3 separate regions of the Homo sapiens genome follow, and regions 1 and 3 are each linked to region 2. Evidence: fine-mapped expression QTL. A gene starts in region 2. Each other region holds a variant in brackets. All regions are shown on one strand. Distances are between the middles of the regions. Region 1 overlaps SRCAP (Snf2 related CREBBP activator protein). Region 2 holds the start of RNF40 (ring finger protein 40). Region 3 overlaps PRSS36 (serine protease 36).

Region 1 (5,000 bases), 55 kb before region 2:
TTGAGTCTCATTTTCCTTGCTGTAAATAAAATAGGAATGATATAATAGTTTATAGGCTATTAAGAGGTTTAAGTTATAGGAGCAAGGCCAGGCGCAGTGGCTCACACCTGTAATCCTGGCACTTTGGGAGGCTGAGACAGGCAGATCTCTTGAGCCCAGGAGTTCAAGACCAGACTGGGCAATGTGGTAAAACCCCATCTCTGTAAAAAGTACAAAAAATTAGCTGGGTATAGTCGCACATGCCTGTAGCAGTCGCAGCCACCCAGGAGCCTGAGTTGAGAGGATCACCTGAGCCCAGGAGGTCAGGGCTGCAGTGAGCCACGATTATGCCACTGCACTCCAGCCTGAGCAACCGAGTAAGATCCTGTCTCAAAAAAAAAGGAGAAAATAGACACAAAAGCACTTTGTAAACTGTGATGCTCTTAAGATTTACTGGTTTCTATTTATTTCTATCGTGCAGTCTGTATTACATTTATCCAGTGGTAAGTGTGGTCTCTGGGCCAGCAGCATCAGCATCACCTGGGAACTTAGTAGAAACACAAATTCTTTGCCGGGCGTGGTGGCTCATGCCTGTAATCCCAGCACTTTGGGAGGCCGAGGCGGGTGGATCACCTGAGGTCAGGAGTTCGAGACCAGCCTGGCCAACGTGGCAAAATCCCATCTCTGCTAAAAATACAAAAATTAGCCTGGCGTGGTGGCGCAGGCCTGTAGTCCTAGCTACTCAGGAAGCTGAGGCAGGGAAATTGCTTGAACTGGGAACCGGAGGTTGCAGTGACCTGAGATGATGCCACTGCACACCAGCCTGGGTAACAGTGAGACTCTGTCTCAAAAAAAAATGCAAATTCTTGGTACCTCTCACCCACCGACCCATTTGAAACTATGAGGGTAGGGCCCAGCAATGTTTTTATTTTTTATTTTTATTTTTATTTTATTTATTTATTTTGTTGAGACGGAGTCTCGCTCTGTCGCCCAGGCTGGAGTGCAGTGGCAGAATTTTGGCTCACTGCAAGCTCCGCCTCCCGGGTTCACAGCCATTCTCTGGCCTCAGCCTCCTGAGTAGCTAGGACTACAGGCGCCCGCCATCACACCCGGCTAAATTTTTTGTATTTTTAGTAGAGATGGGGTTTCACCATGTTGGCGGGATGGTCTTGATCTCTTGACCTTGTGATCTGCCAGCCTCGGCCTCTGAAAGTGCTGGGATTACAGGCATGAGCCACTGCGCCCGGCCACAATTGGGTTTTTTTTTTTTTCCTTGAGACGGAGTCTCAGTCTTTCGCTGAGGCTGGAGTGCAGTGGCATGATCTCGGCTCACTGCAAGCTCCGCCTCCTGGGTTCACGCCATTCTCCTGCCTCAGCCTCCCGAGTAGCTGGGACTAAGCGCTCGCCACTATGCCTGGCTAATTTTTTGTGTTTTTAGTAGACACGGGGTTTCACCGTTTTAGCCAAGATGGTCTCGATCTCCTGACCTTGTGATCCACCCGCCTTGGCCTCCCAAAGTGCTGGGATTACAGGTGTGAGCACAACCTGTTTCTAAAAGTCCTCCAGATGATTCCGGTGCCTCCTCAAGTTTGAGAGCAGCTGGTCTAATATCCACGTCTTTCTTGATGTTTCCTTCACTGTCAGGCCATTTAGTCCTGTCTGGTCTCTGGCTGTCATTTTCTCTGATTTAGTTTTTATCAGGAGAGGACAGAAATAACAAAGACAGAGGCTGGGTGCGGTGGTTTTCGCCTATAATCTGAGCATTTTGGGAATCCCAGGCAGGCGGATTGCTTAAACCCAGGAGTTCCAGACCAGCCTTGACATTGTGAAACCTCGCCCCTACGAAAAATACAAAAAAATTAGCTGGGCATGGTTGCATGTGCCTATAGTCAGTCTCAGCTACCTGGGAGGCTGAGTTGGGAGGCTGAGTTGGGAAGATAACCTGAGCCTAGGCAGCAGAGTGAGACCCAGAAAAATCTCACTCAGATTTCTGAGTGAGATTCAGAAAAAGAAATAAGGCAGTTGTCCTGAATTTTTTGAGTCGTCTCTGTCAAAAAAATTTTAAATGCTTTTTAAATAAAAGACAATCAGTGTAGAAGCTTTAGTAAAAATGACCACTCTTTTTTACACCTAATCAGTGTTAAACATTTCACGTATAACGTTTCAGTATTTTTTACATAAACATATGCATTTTTACAAAAGTAGTATTTTTAAAAACAACAGTGTGTCAGTTGGGCATTATAGCATATTTCTAAGCTTAATGCATCATGAAAATACTCTGAGTAAGTAGAATTCTACAATGATGATGACCCCTTGTATCTAGAATCAAGAGGGAAGTATGTGTTCCCTACTCCTCTGGGAAGCTCCTCTTGGGATATGATTTCCCAAGTCTCTCCTATGTCTATGGGGTGTGGAGATTGTGTTAAATAATGGAAAGAGCATGAAATTTGCTGTCTGGAGTCCTCAGACCTATTTTTGATTCACATTTTCTATTACTTTCTAGCTGTGTGATCTTGGGCAAATCACTTAATCTCCCTGATCTTTTTTCCTTCTTCATCTCCCTGATCTTTTTTCCCTTCTCTGAAGAGAGTATGATACCTGCCTGTAAGTTTGGTATGTGGACTAAACATAAGCATAACACACTCAGCCCACTTAGTGCTCAGGAATTCAGCCGTGGCAGTGAGATGGAGTGTGTGTTTAGAACTGTTGATTGATCTGGCTCTCCCTGATTAGGAGGCCGAGATCGAGACTCGGATTGCTGAGCTGCGGAAGGAGGGTTTCTGGTCACTGAAGAGGCTGCCTAAGGTGCCAGAGCCCCCTCGCCCCAAAGGTCACTGGGACTATTTGTGCGAAGAGATGCAGTGGCTCTCTGCTGACTTTGCTCAGGAGCGCCGTTGGAAACGGGGTGTGGCCCGGAAGGTAGGTCTTCCGCTGGGACTTCCTTCCTTTTCCTTTTCAGGTCTGTTCCTTCCCGGTTTGTTGGAAGGGGACCAGACAGAATGGTGTAGGCATTAAGAGCAAACTCTTGATTTTCCAGATTTCTTGGCCTTGATTATTTTCTTTGCCTTTGGGTGGGGAAGTCTGGCTTTGAGTGTTTTCACC[C/T]TGGGTCTTCATTCCCACAGGTGGTGCGCATGGTGATCCGGCACCACGAGGAGCAGCGGCAGAAAGAGGAACGGGCCCGGAGGGAGGAGCAGGCCAAGCTGCGTCGAATTGCTTCCACCATGGCCAAGGATGTCAGGCAGTTCTGGAGCAATGTGGAGAAGGTAGACAGTGGGGATCAGGAAAGGAAAATGGCCTTGGATTAGATTGGTAGATGGCGTGGTAGTAGGAATGATCAAAACTTCTTGAGGGAGTAAATATAATTTCAGGCAACTCTAATGACGTTTATGTTGTATGGATAAAAAAGTATAGTGGCAAAATATGGGTCCTGCCTTTGGGGATTGTTAATAGTTCTCCTTGACACCTCTAGGCCATCTGTCCCTTGCAGGGCATTTAGCATGTGTTTACTGAAATGTATTTGTGCCACTTAGCACATGCTTAAATTCCGTCAAAGTTCCCACTGCCTGTATAGTAAGTTGTAATTATTTCTTAAGTACTACCCAGTTTCCGTCTGTATTTTCGGTCTTGCCTCCTGCCATGTTCATTCCTTCTCCCTTCCACTCCACACCCACCTTTCTTTTGTATATCTCTGTCCATTTACACATAGACTTTATGCTGCTGGGAATGCTTTTTTCCTCATGTGTACTTAGGGAACAGCCACCTATTTTTTAATTGTCTTGGACAGAGTCTTGCTGTGTCTCCTAGGCTGGAGTGCAGTGGTACGATCACAGCTCACTGCATCCTCAACCTCCTGGGCTCACGCGATCTTCCTGCCTCGATCTCCCAAGTATCTGGGACTACAGGCGCGTGCTACCACATCTTGCTAATTAAAAAAATTCTTTTTAATTTCTTTTTTTTTAATTTTTTTGTGAAACAGAGTCTCACCCCGTCACCTAGGGCAGTGGCGCAATCTTGGCTCACTGCAACCTCTGCCTCCCAGGCTCAAGTGATTCTCCTGCCTCAGGCTCTGGAGTAGCTGGGATTACAGGCATGTGCCACTATGTCTGGCTAATTTTTGTATTTTTAGTAGAGACAGGGTTTTGCTGTGTTGGCCAGGCTGGTCTTGAACTCCTGACCTCAGGTTATCCACTCGCCCCAGCCTCTCAAAGTGCTGGGATTATAGACGTGAGCCACCGCACCTGGCCTAAAAATATTTTTTTGTGGAGACAAGGTCTCGCTGTTACATACCAAGCTGATCTTGAATTCCTAGGCTCAAGCGATCCTCTCACTTTGGCCTCCCAAAGTGTGAGCCACTATGCCTGGCTTCACCTACCTGTTTTTTTGTTTTTGAGACGGAGTCTCGCTTTGTTCCCAGGCTGGAGTGCAGTGGTGCAATCTGGGCTTACTGCAACCTCTGCCTCCCAGGTTCAAGCGATTCTCCTGCCTCTGCCTCCGGAGTAGCTGAGTTTACAGGTGCCCGCCACCACGCCTGGCTAATTTTTTATTTTTAGTAGAGATGGGGGTTTCACCATGTCGGTCAGGCTGGTCTCGAACTCCTGACCTCACGTGATCCTCCCACTTCAGCCTTCCAAAGTGCTGAGAATACAGGCATGAGCCACTGTGCCTGGCCCACCTACCTATTTTTTGAGACCCAGTTCCAGCTGGGTGTGGTGATGCATGCCTGTAGTTCCACCTACGTGGGAGGGTGAGGCAGGAGGATCATTTGAGCCCAGGAGTTTGACACTAGTCTGGCCAACATAGTGAGATCTCATCTCTTTAAAAAAAAAAAAAAATCCAGCTTCAGATTGCAAACCTTCCCTCCACCTGAGGCGAAGCTGGCTCTTCTTCCTGCATGCTCCCTTTGTGCTTCCTTTAGACCATAGTGAGCCCCTAAGGTTATTTAGTTTTACTTTCCTAAGAGGCCAGCCCAGGATCTGGTTAAAGAAGGTCTCCCTAAACATCGGGTAAAAGTACATAAATAA
Region 2 (5,327 bases):
GAGCAAGGAGAGCCCACTGGGGTCTTCACAAGAAGATAAGGGTGATGAATGTGAGAGAGACTGGGTGAGACCTTGTCTGGGGATGGGTAAAGTTTCCAGAATGTTCCAGGGGAACTGACCCTGACTCCATGGCAAAAAAGGACACTGGTGAAGTAGCGGTAGCACTCCTCCACGTTGCCCAAGGGGGTTGCTGGTAGGGAAAGCAAGATGCAGCAGTGAGGCCCTCTCTGGTATCCATTCATTCACTTCACTCAACAGCTGTTTATGACCATGAGCTTCAGAAGCAGACAGATCTGGGTTTCAGCACTGGCTTGTTTCCTTAACTCATGTAACAAATACTGAATACCCACTATATGCCCACTGTATGGTTTTCGGCACTGAACAAGACAGACAAGGTCCTGCCCTTACGAAGCTTATATTCTAGGGGAATAAACCAAGAAATAGATCATTTCAGCTATTAAACATTCTGAAGCAAGAGCTATTAAACATTCTAAAGCAGGTGTTATTGTGCACTATGCATATATTTGCATATATTATTTCTCAGAACAGTCCTGTAAAATGTGTGCTGTATCCTTAATTTCTAGATAAGGAAGCAGTGGATTGGAAAGCTGATGGCTTGTGTATGATGATGCTACTAATAATGACATATTCCAGGCAGAAATCCCCTGCTTCTGCTTCCCATGGTCACTTGTGCCAGGCCCGGTTCCTCTTCTCCCTGGGGCTCAAACCTGGTAGCTGCCCCCTCTCACCAATACAAGCCTTGTGAAGATCCTGGAGCAGGGCACAAGCCGCTGACGTCTGCTCCAGTGAGAAGCCCTGCTGGCGGCAGAAAATGAGCGCGTGGCAGAAGAGGTCCAGGGTGATGGCGTCCCTCAGGCTCTGCTCAGGACACCCTAGCTCCAGCAGCTCAGCCAGCACCCTTGGGAGGGAGAGAGGAGTGAGTGACAACTGGGCCTCCTTTCATCACCCTACACCCACCACATGCTTTGGAGTCAGCCATTCCTCATGTTTTCCCAACCTGACCCCTCAGCCTTTGCCAAGAGCTCTTCCCACGCCCCCCTCAGTCCCTACTCCCTCATCTCAGCATTGGTGGTCTTCTCCAGCTGGTGCATGGAATGGACGTCCAGGTACTTCCTGTTATAGTAAAAGAAAAAGAGTATTGGTGGCCGTTACCTATCATGACAAGGCTGTGACAGCTAGTGCGTGAGACTGGGAGTTGGCCACCGGCGTGAAGCTGGGCTCTTTTGCCAGCTTGCTGTGTGACTATGCAAATCGTTAACTCTCTGGGCCTAAATGAACTCTTATGAGCCTCTCCATTTCTAAAGCCTAGGGTTAGGAATCTTGAATTCTTTTTTCTGCTCTGCCACTACCTTGTATGACCTTGGTCAAGTACTCCCTGTGGCCCTCAGTGTCCCCCTCTGTACAATACTCCTTAGCGGCCATGAGACTCCATTTACATTCTGTCTTTGGCTCTTTTTTTCTCACACTGCCTCCTCTTTGGACTGGAGAGGCTGGAAAGCCAACTTCCAGTCACCTGGAGTAATTGCATCTCCAGGCCTCAGTCTCATCTGTAAAATGGGGATGCCCTGGCCACAGACAGGACTGTTGGGGAGACAATAAAGAACGCAAATATTCAGTGTAATTTTTGTCTCTTCACACTCACCACATGCAGATCCGGGGTCGGGGCAGCGGCGGCTGCGGAAAGAAAGCGAATTGGGGAAGGCAGCTGCGGTGTCCTGGCCCGTAGCGAATCTCCAGCAGGCCGGAGAAGCCGCTGTAACTTGCCATCTCATCTCAAGGACTAAGGAGAGGCGCGGGCGAGGGAGGGCTTCAGCAGGCCCTAGGTGCTCTACGCGAGCACAGTAACCACCGGGGTCACACACCCCTGCCTCTCCTCGCCCAAGCAGCCCGGGAGACGTCCCGAACGTTAGTAAGCATAATGACAGGTGGCGCCTGCGGGGGAGCCGGTTTATAAATATTCACGAGCAGACCAGACTGTCCCGCCCTCACCGGAAACAAGTTGGCTCCGGGGTCTTCATCCGCTTTCGCCGCCGCCGCCGTCGTCCACTGAGTCCGCACACTCGCACGCGTCCGCGCGGCCGACCCATGCACTGAGCTGCGATCCTTCCCCGCTTCCCGCCGCAGCTCGGAGAGATGTTCAAGCTCCGACTGCACCCTCATTCCCAAAAAGTGGCTGGTCTTGCGGTTGAGCATCTCGCCGCTCTTCCGTGCCGCGAGGCGCCCCGGGCTCCCGCCGCCTAGGTTCCAGGACAGCCAGCGCTCGGTCGGCGGCTACCAAGGCCGGGCCCGTTCGCCTCGCTCCGGCCAATCTACGCGCGGAGAGGCGCGGCGGGGCGAATCCGTGGGGGCGTCTCCCTCCGTCTCAACGGCGACGGTTGCCAAGGGGGCTTGTGAGGGAAGGAAGGCGGAAAGCGCAGGCTCACGCCAGTGGGAGCGAAGAGAACGCGCAGATACGTGAGAAGTTGCGAGTGCCCACCTGGGCGCCCTCTCTTCCAGGTTGCTAATACGAGGGCCGGTGCTGTCCTCCAGGCTGGGAAGTGGGAGCGCGGTGTCAGTTACTATGGGAACTGCCTCTTGGCCAATCACCGAGAGAAAGAGGAGGTGTTTGGGAAGAAGCCAGAGGACCCGAGTGGCGGGACCAAGCGTAACCAATAGAAGCAGAAGATAAAGAAGTTTCCTCACATCCGGGGCTGCCTTTGGCGCCTGCGCCCTGCGCACCGTTGGGGGGGGGGCAGTGGCGTCCAGTGACGCCCAGTGACGTCCGGTGAAATCCAAGATGGCGGCGCTAGGCTGACCCTCCTGCTGGTGAGGGCTCTGGCGCCGGGGGGGACGGGATCCAGCAGGTGTGTGCAGGGTGGAGGGTGTTTGGGGCTGTGGAACACCAGCCGTTCCCACATCTCTGCTCTGTGTCTTCTGCAGGTGACGGAAGTACCGCCTCCTCCCGTTTGACGCCCCTCAGGGGACCCTGCATCGCTCCAGCCGCCGCGGCCATGTCTGGGCCAGGCAACAAACGCGCCGCCGGCGACGGGGGCTCAGGGCCCCCGGAAAAGAAGCTGAGTCGTGAGGAGAAGACCACCACGACTCTTATCGAGCCCATTCGTCTTGGAGGCATCTCTTCCACGGTTCGTGGGCTCTTGCCTTAACCCTCAGAACTTCCCAGAGCCCTCCCTCTGTTCTCTGGCCAAACTGTGCGGAATCTTACACCCACTTCCCCAAGTTTAGCAAGGTCCGCGTTACAGGACCTTGAAAGAAAGGTTAGAAAGAAGCTCAGAACACGACGCCTGTCTTCCCTTTACAGATAGGAAAACAGGTTTCCAGGGGGCGTGTGACTTGTCAAAGACTAAGGATTTACAAGGGGACAGGCAGAAACAACGTGAGCCTCCTCACAACAAAGACACTTTCGCTGTGTGTTGTCTGAGCCTCCTTAGATTCTGTTAGCGGTTAGTGTGGGAATACCTCCATCTCCCATGCATTGCAGATGCTCTGCTCCTCTTTCTCTCTCTGTGATTGGTTTGTGGGCCCTGCTTGACGCTCTCGTCGGCCCCTTTGTTTCCTTTGGTAGGAGGAGATGGACCTGAAGGTACTACAGTTCAAGAACAAGAAACTGGCAGAGCGGCTGGAACAACGGCAGGCTTGTGAAGATGAACTCCGAGAACGAATTGAGAAGTTGGAGAAGCGGCAGGCCACAGATGATGCCACACTCCTCATCGTCAATCGCTACTGGGCCCAGGTGGATACCTTCTGCTTTCAAAGACCAGGCCTTGATTCAGCTGCCAATCCCCAGATTCCCCTGCTAGGAAAGGAGTATCATGTTGGAAAGCACTAAGGGATTCATAACATTTTTGATGTTTTCTCCTTCCAGCTGGATGAAACTGTGGAAGCCCTTCTCCGATGCCATGAGAGCCAGGGGGAGCTGTCTTCAGCGCCTGAGGCACCTGGGACCCAGGAGGGGCCAACATGTGATGGGACTCCTCTCCCAGAGCCGGGGACATCAGAGCTGAGAGGTAGGACCAGAGTGCTGGGATCTGGGGAGCTTAAGTTCTGGGAGAAGTCCTGGGGAGGAGGGGACTTTGGTGTTGGGCCCCTGAATTGCCTATCTTACTACTTCTCACGAAATGGATTTCATGTTTGGGCAGTAAAGTGCAGTGCACAAAAACACAGGCTTTAGACTCTGACTAACTTGGTTTATAGAGCAATTCATGTTTTGACACCCATTTGTTTCAAAACAGTATTATGGTTGAGTATTAAATATGTATTTGACGCTTCCTAGAAATGAGTGTTGCACTTGCTATAAGGGAGGAAATTATAAACATAGTAAGCAGAAAGTACTGGGGCTCCTGAAACGGAATGATTGTGTGTGCATGCATGTGCGTGTGATTCTAATTATATTGGTAAAGTACAGGAAGCTTCCCTGAGGATGTGATACGCAACTCTGTAGCTTTGAGGAAATTACTTTACCTCCCTGAATTTCATTTGTCTCACTTTCAGGATGGAGATAATAGTGCACTATAGGTTGTGTTGATTAAGTGAACCATGAGTATTGAAGGGCTCAGTCTGGAACTTGGTACAGAGTGGTAGTAACTGCTGCTCTTATCCTCATGAGGGTCTGTCCATTCCTTCCAGACCCCTTGCTGATGCAGCTGCGGCCCCCTCTCAGTGAGCCGGCCTTGGCTTTTGTGGTGGCACTGGGTGCCAGCAGCAGTGAGGAGGTGGAGCTGGAGCTGCAAGGCCGAATGGAGTTCTCCAAGGCAGCTGTGTCTCGTGTGGTAGAGGCCTCAGACCGCCTACAGCGCCGGGTGGAGGAACTCTGTCAGCGAGTGTACAGCCGAGGTGGGTTCTTTGTGCCCATACTGAAGGGGTGTCCATCCCCACCTGCATCTTGATGGCACCCCTTCCTGATTCCCCTAATGCCCGAGTCCAAGGGCGGCCAGAATTTCCCAAGGAATAAATCAGCCATGTTCTTGGAAGAGGTAGGTTAGGCTGTAGATGGGGGTTCCAACTTTGATTCCGGGATTGAATGCTAGAGAGATGGGTTGGAGGAGTTGTTGATGCCGGTAGAGGCTCCTGGCCAGAGGCCCCTCTGGAGCACTTGGTGTGGGTTGCGGATCCACAAGGCATAGCTTCAAGGGCTCAGGCCTTGTAGGTTGACAGGCTTCTCCCACCTTAGTTCTGCCACCCTCACCTGGACATGCTGGGAAAGTGGCTCCCCTCTCTGAGCTGGTTTCCTTCTCTGTGCAGTGGGGATAAAGACTCCTGGCTTTGTCATGAGAAATGGGCAAGACAGCTGGTGGATCACACTGGGTATA
Region 3 (5,327 bases), 380 kb after region 2:
GGGCCAGTGTGGGGAGCCACTGGGGGGCAGGAAGTTGGCCTCTCCCACTGTCTGGGAGATCCAGGCCTCTTCAGGACCAATGGCAGCAAACAGCTCCCGGCTCCCTTGAACAGCCATGCCCACGAGGATCCAGGACCCTTCCGTCATCTGGCACAGGAGGGGCGGTGCTGAGGTCATCTGCAGAGTTGGAGCGAGGCCACGTGGGTCTGCTGCCCTTCCTCTTGGTCCCCTCCCCCTTTCCCCAGGGTCTGGCCACGAAGCACTCTGGTCTGCATCCCTAGACATCCAGGTCCCTGGTTTCTCTCCCGGGTCCAGCTAGGGTCCCATTTGGGGCCAAATACCCAATAATTCCAATCCTGGCCAGGTGCAGTGGCTCACACCTCTAATCCCAACCCTTTGGGAAGCCAAGGTGGGCGGATCATTTGAGGTGAGGAGTTTGAGTCCAGCTTGGCCAACATGGTGAAACCCTGTCTCTACTAAAAATACAAAAATTAACCAGGTGTGGTGGTGCATGCTTGTAATCCCAGCTACTAGGGAGGCTGAGGCAGGAGAATCTCTTGAACCTGGGAGGTGGAGGTTGCAGTGAGCCAAGATCACACCACTGCACTCCAGCCTGGGTACCAGAGCGAGACTCAGTCTCAAAAAAAAAAAAAAAAAAAAAAAAAAATTCCTTGGCCGGGCGCAGTGGCTCACACCTCTAATCCCAGCACTTTGGGAGGCCGAGGCCGGCGGATCACGAGATCAGATCAAGACCATCCTGGCTCACACAGTGAAACCCCGTCTCTACTAAAAATACAAAAAATTAGCCGGGCGTAGTAGCGGGTGCCTGTAGTCCCAGCTACTCGGGAGGCTGAGGCAGGAGAATGGCATGAACCAGGGAGGTGGAGCTTGCAGTGAGCCGAGATCGCGCCACTGCACTCCAGCTGGGGGACAGAGTGAGACTCTGTCTCAAAAAAAAAAAAAAAAAAAAATTCCAATTCTGCTATCTCTCTAGGGTACAGTAGTCCAACACTGCCTCTCCCCTGCCTACTCCAGGACGCCCAGGCCCCTGTACCTCACACCTGTTCTCCTGCCCCTCTGCATACAGGACACAGAGGGTTCCAGGGGGCAGGATGCCCTGATAGAGGCAGTCACAGATTCGTTGTGTCAAGATGGAGACAGCAGCAGCCACAGGGACTGGGGAGAGGAGACAAAGTTGTTCCAGGGCTCTGGCCTCCAGCTACTCCTCGTTCCCGTGACCCAGGGGTCTCACCTCGGTCCTGGGGTTCTTTCCAGCCCAACACCCAGCAGCTGGCCCCCGGGGGGATACCCGCCGGGTGGAGACAGATGGGCAGGGCTGATGGGGAGGGCTCCACCCGGGAGCTCAGCTCCAGGAGGGCCAGGGGGGGCCTGAGTCCCAGGTGCTGGGGCAGCCGGATGCTGATGACCAAGCGGGATACCTGGTGGCCCTGTGGGAGGGAGCTGGCCCCTGCCCGGCCCAGATACACTTCAATGTAAGGCACTGTTGTAGAGCCTGGCCTGTTGGAACAAGGTCCAATGTCACCTTCTGCTCCTCCCATTGCTGGCAAAGTCCTTCCCAGCCCAGGGGAAGGATGACTCTCTGGGGTCATGCCACTCACTCCTTCATCATCCCTCCTTCCAAATCTCCCTTCTAGGTCAAAACATCTCCCAGTGCTGTAAGATTCTTCCCTCATGCCCCACCCCAGACAGAGTCTTGCTCTGTCGCTCCGACTGGAGTGCAGTGGCGCAATCTTGGCTCACTGCAACCTCTGCCCTCCCTGGGTTCAAGCGATTCTCCTGCCTCAGCCTCCCACGTAGCTGGGGTTACAGGCGCCTGCCACCACCCCTGGCTAATTTTTGTATTTTTAGTAGAGGGGTTTCACCATGTTGGCCAGGCTCGTCTTGAACTCCTGACCTCATGATCTGCCCGCCTCGGCCTCCCAAAGTGCTAGGATTACAGGTGTGAACCATTGCGCCCAGCTGTAAGATGCTTAAAGGAGAATATCCCACTATTTTAAGAGTCCTTTGGGTGAGGCACAGTGGCTCATGCCTGTAATCTTAGTACGTTGGCCAAGGCAGGAGGATTGCTTGAGGCTGGCCTGGGCAACACAGCAAGATCTCATTGTTAATTTTTTT[T/TAAAC]AAACAAACAAACAAACAAATAACAAAAACAAGTCTTTGGCTCTGTTCCATTCTCCCCTCCCGTCTCTCGCCTAGGAGACGAGTGAGACCCACCTGAGGACACAGTGAGTGGCTGCCAGGACCCAGCCTGGGGCCAGGAGGATCCCAGTGCAGACTCGATCACCAGCCACATGCACCTCTGCCAGCCAGGGCCACAGGACCCCCACTGGAGCAGCCTCCAGCCGCAGGCCACAGGCTAGGGAGAGGAGGTGGCCACCTCAGTTGGGGCCCCATGGCTGACCCCTGAGCCCCTGCCATGGGTCTGTGCACTCCCAGGAGCCCCTAGGGCCCAAAAGCGTCCTGCTCACCACCATGCTCTGTGTGTGGGGGACAAGTCTGTGTCTCAGTCTCCTCCCCATCAGGGCCCCAATCCCAGGCTAGCTGGTCCTCCAGGTAGGCTCCCCGAGTCACATGGCTGATCCATGGGCCATGAGTCTGCAGAGGGAAGAAGGCTCGGGGACGTAGACAGCCACTGGGAAAGTCTCTGATTCCAGCCAGAAACCAGGTCCCCTCCTCCTGGCACAAAAGGCTCCAACGCGAGTCATTCTGCAGCAACAAAGTGTGTGTGTTACTTGCCTCTGCGTGTGTGCAGAGAATATCAGAGCTCCTGGGGCTTTCCAGGACTCCAGATTTTCCCATTTGCGGAAGTATCAAGTTCCACCTTCTCCAAATCAGACTCCAAATACTAATTTGTGTAAGAATTCAGCCCTCACTTTAAGATTCTCCTTAAATCCAGAGATAGAGAGAAACCATAGCACCAGCTCAGAGCCCGCCTCAGCTCCCTCCCAAAAGTTCTCTAGGGGCAGGCCCCACCCCCAGCTCGTTCTGGCCCCGCTTCCACCCCGGCTCCGCCCCATTCCCAGTTCCGCAAGCCCCGCCCCTTCCTAGAGCCCACTCGGACCCGCCTTCCCCAGGCCCCGCTCCCTCCCTAGAGCCCACTCGGACCCGCCTTCCGCAGGCCCCGCCCTCTCCCTAGAGCCCACTTGGACTCGCCTTCCACAGGCCCCGCCCTCTTCCTAGAGCCCTCTCGGGCCCGCGTTCCGCGGGCCCCGCCCCCGCCGCTTACCCAGCAGCTGCCCACCTCCTCCTTTTCCTGGTAGGCAGGGCAGAGCGCGTGCGGCGGGTCTCCGGGCAGCGGTACTGCCGCCCCCTGGCGGCCGTACAGGCAGTGGCACCACCAGCCGCCTAACAGCTCCGCCTCCAGCAGCGCGCCTGGGCCAAGCGCGGGTTCTGGAAGGGAAAAGGCAGGGAGCCCGCGCTGCGGCCCAGACGGCCCCTGCACCGCCCGGTGCCGCCCGGCCCAGCGCCGGTCCCCAGCTCACCCCCGCGGCCCCAGCGGGCCAGGCGGCAGCGGCTCCCGGGCAGGAAGTAGTGTTCCGGGTGGGGTAGGCACACGGGCCGCGAAGCCGCGCTCAGGTTCACGGGCGTGCGCAGCTGCAGCAGCGCCAGGTCCGAGGCGTTGTCCCACGAAGCGTTCTCGTGCTGCACCAGGCGCGCCACCCGCTCCGCGCGCGGGCGCGAGGGCAGCAGCACGCGCCAGGCGTCGAGGTCGCGGGGTGGGCTGTCGGAGCTGTTCGGGCTGCGGGATGGGGGCCGAGGGACGTGGGCCGGATCCCGCACACGTGGCTGGAAACCTCACACCCCGGCTTAGACTTGCCAGGCGAGGATCCTGCATCCTGGCGGGATCCCCACGACACCCCCATTCCAACAGCTCACTCACACCCCCGCCTCCGGGATCGAACTTCTATCTACCATGCCTCTACCCACCCCTGCCAGGCCAGGACCCCTCTTTTTGTGCTGGATCCTACACCTCCGAATGGGACCCCGCCCCCCCCACACCCCCTGGGGAGGGGCTGGGGCCGAATGGATGGTATCTCAGGCTGTAGGGAGGGGCAAGGATCGGCTTGAAACGTAGATTTTCACTCACTCCAGAAAGCAGCTGGCAGGTGCCAAGACCCAGCTTTCAGACACCAGCGCCCCATGGCAGGGTCTGGATCCTGGCACCATCACCTGGGCCTCCCAGGGCCAGGCCCCTGGCCGCGGGGCCTTCCCGCACTCTGAGGGGTGAGAGGCCTGGGTCAGTGGGCCTCCTGCAACCCAATCACTCCCAGCAGTCTCCATCCCAACTCACTCTCCCATGTCCCGCTTACATCCAGGGGTGCCGCCCACTCACCAGGCAGGGCAATGGTGCAGTTCTCCTCCCTGGGCTCCTGGGGATCTGACTGGGTCTTCTGGGGCTGGGTGGGAAAGGCAGGCCCAGGCTCTGAACCCATCACCTGCTCCCGTATCCATGCCTCATAGGTAGCCACAGCAGTGAAAACTCCAGGGCGGTTTCTCCGTCCACAGCCAAAGCCAAAGCTGGTGATTCCTGCCTGGAACCAGCGGCCGCCTTCCTCACAGACCAGGGGCCCCCCAGAGTCACCCTAGTGGCAGATGACTGCATGTCAAGGGGTCAGCCCAGGGACCTACTCGAAAAGGTCCTGCACCTCCTTTTGGCCCAACATACACCACCTTCTCCCTTCTCCTAGAAACCCTCCTTGGCTAGGCCTTGTCCTCTGCATTCCCTGCGGCTCTAAACAGAAGAAATCCCTGTAAGCAGAAGGCCGATGGCAGCCAGAGCCAAGAGCACCAGGGGAGTGCATTCAAAGCCACACAAGATAATCCTGCAGTTGTCATTAGAGCCAAGTGATTCTTGTTGTTACTAGCTCAAATAATTCCCCTCCCTCCCTTCCTTCCTTCTTTCCTTCCCTTTCTTTTTCTTTCTTTCTTTTCTTTTTTGAGACGGAATCTCGCTCTGTCTCCCAGGCTGGAGTGCAGTGGTGCAACCTCAGCCCACTGCAACCTCTGCCTCCCGGGTTCAAGTGATTCTCCTGCCTCAGCTTCCCGAGTAGCTGGGACTACAGGTGTACACCACCACAGCCGGCTAATTTTTGTATTTTTGGTAGAGATGGGTTTTTGCCATGTTGGCCAGGCTGGTCTCAAACTCTCGACCTCAAGTGATCCACGTGCCTCGGTCTCCTAAAGTGCTGGGATTACAGGCGTGAGCCATTGTGCCCAGCCAGTTTGTCTCTTTTTTTGGGATGAGGTATCACTATGTTGCTCAGGCTGGTCTCAGACTCCTGGGCTCAAGTGATCCTCCCGCCTCAATTTTT

Evidence for each region. PIP is the estimated chance that this variant, and not a neighbour inherited with it, causes the effect.
Region 1: its variant is fine-mapped to the expression of RNF40 in whole blood (INTERVAL, PIP 0.91).
Region 3: its variant is fine-mapped to the expression of RNF40 in vagina (GTEx, PIP 0.98).

The regions. Positions count from the first base shown.
Region 1 is chr16:30,704,471-30,709,470 of GRCh38, forward strand. SRCAP (Snf2 related CREBBP activator protein) reads left to right here. Exons shown (of 34, transcript NM_006662.3): 5 at 2,713-2,898; 6 at 3,102-3,242. Among named protein-coding and RNA genes, the nearest start is that of SNORA30, 3.6 kb to the right of the region's middle. The variant C/T (reference allele first, on the strand shown) is at 3,082.
Region 2 is chr16:30,759,535-30,764,861 of GRCh38, forward strand. RNF40 (ring finger protein 40) reads left to right here and starts at 2,788. Exons shown (of 20, transcript NM_014771.4): 1 at 2,788-2,826; 2 at 2,941-3,143; 3 at 3,584-3,751; 4 at 3,884-4,025; 5 at 4,645-4,851. The coding sequence starts at 3,012. It overlaps PHKG2 (phosphorylase kinase catalytic subunit gamma 2), which reads left to right. Exons shown (of 10, transcript NM_000294.3): 10 at 1-1,642. It overlaps CFAP119 (cilia and flagella associated protein 119), which reads right to left and starts at 2,528. Exons shown (of 9, transcript NM_001014979.3): 1 at 2,011-2,528; 2 at 1,664-1,695; 3 at 1,072-1,134; 4 at 750-919; 5 at 120-190. The coding sequence starts at 2,214. RefSeq lists enhancers at 453-1,652, 1,617-1,766, 2,357-2,536, 2,492-3,129, 2,617-2,876 and 3 more and a silencer at 1,851-2,080.
Region 3 is chr16:31,139,240-31,144,566 of GRCh38, forward strand. PRSS36 (serine protease 36) reads right to left here. Exons shown (of 15, transcript NM_173502.5): 7 at 4,349-4,598; 8 at 4,103-4,232; 9 at 3,498-3,754; 10 at 3,242-3,405; 11 at 2,484-2,721; 12 at 2,230-2,371; 13 at 1,253-1,518; 14 at 1,055-1,176; 15 at 1-177. Among named protein-coding and RNA genes, the nearest start is that of PRSS8, 6.2 kb to the left of the region's middle. RefSeq lists enhancers at 1-623, 905-1,440, 1,441-1,974, 3,706-3,785 and silencers at 2,906-3,195, 3,246-3,655. The variant T/TAAAC (reference allele first, on the strand shown) is at 2,137.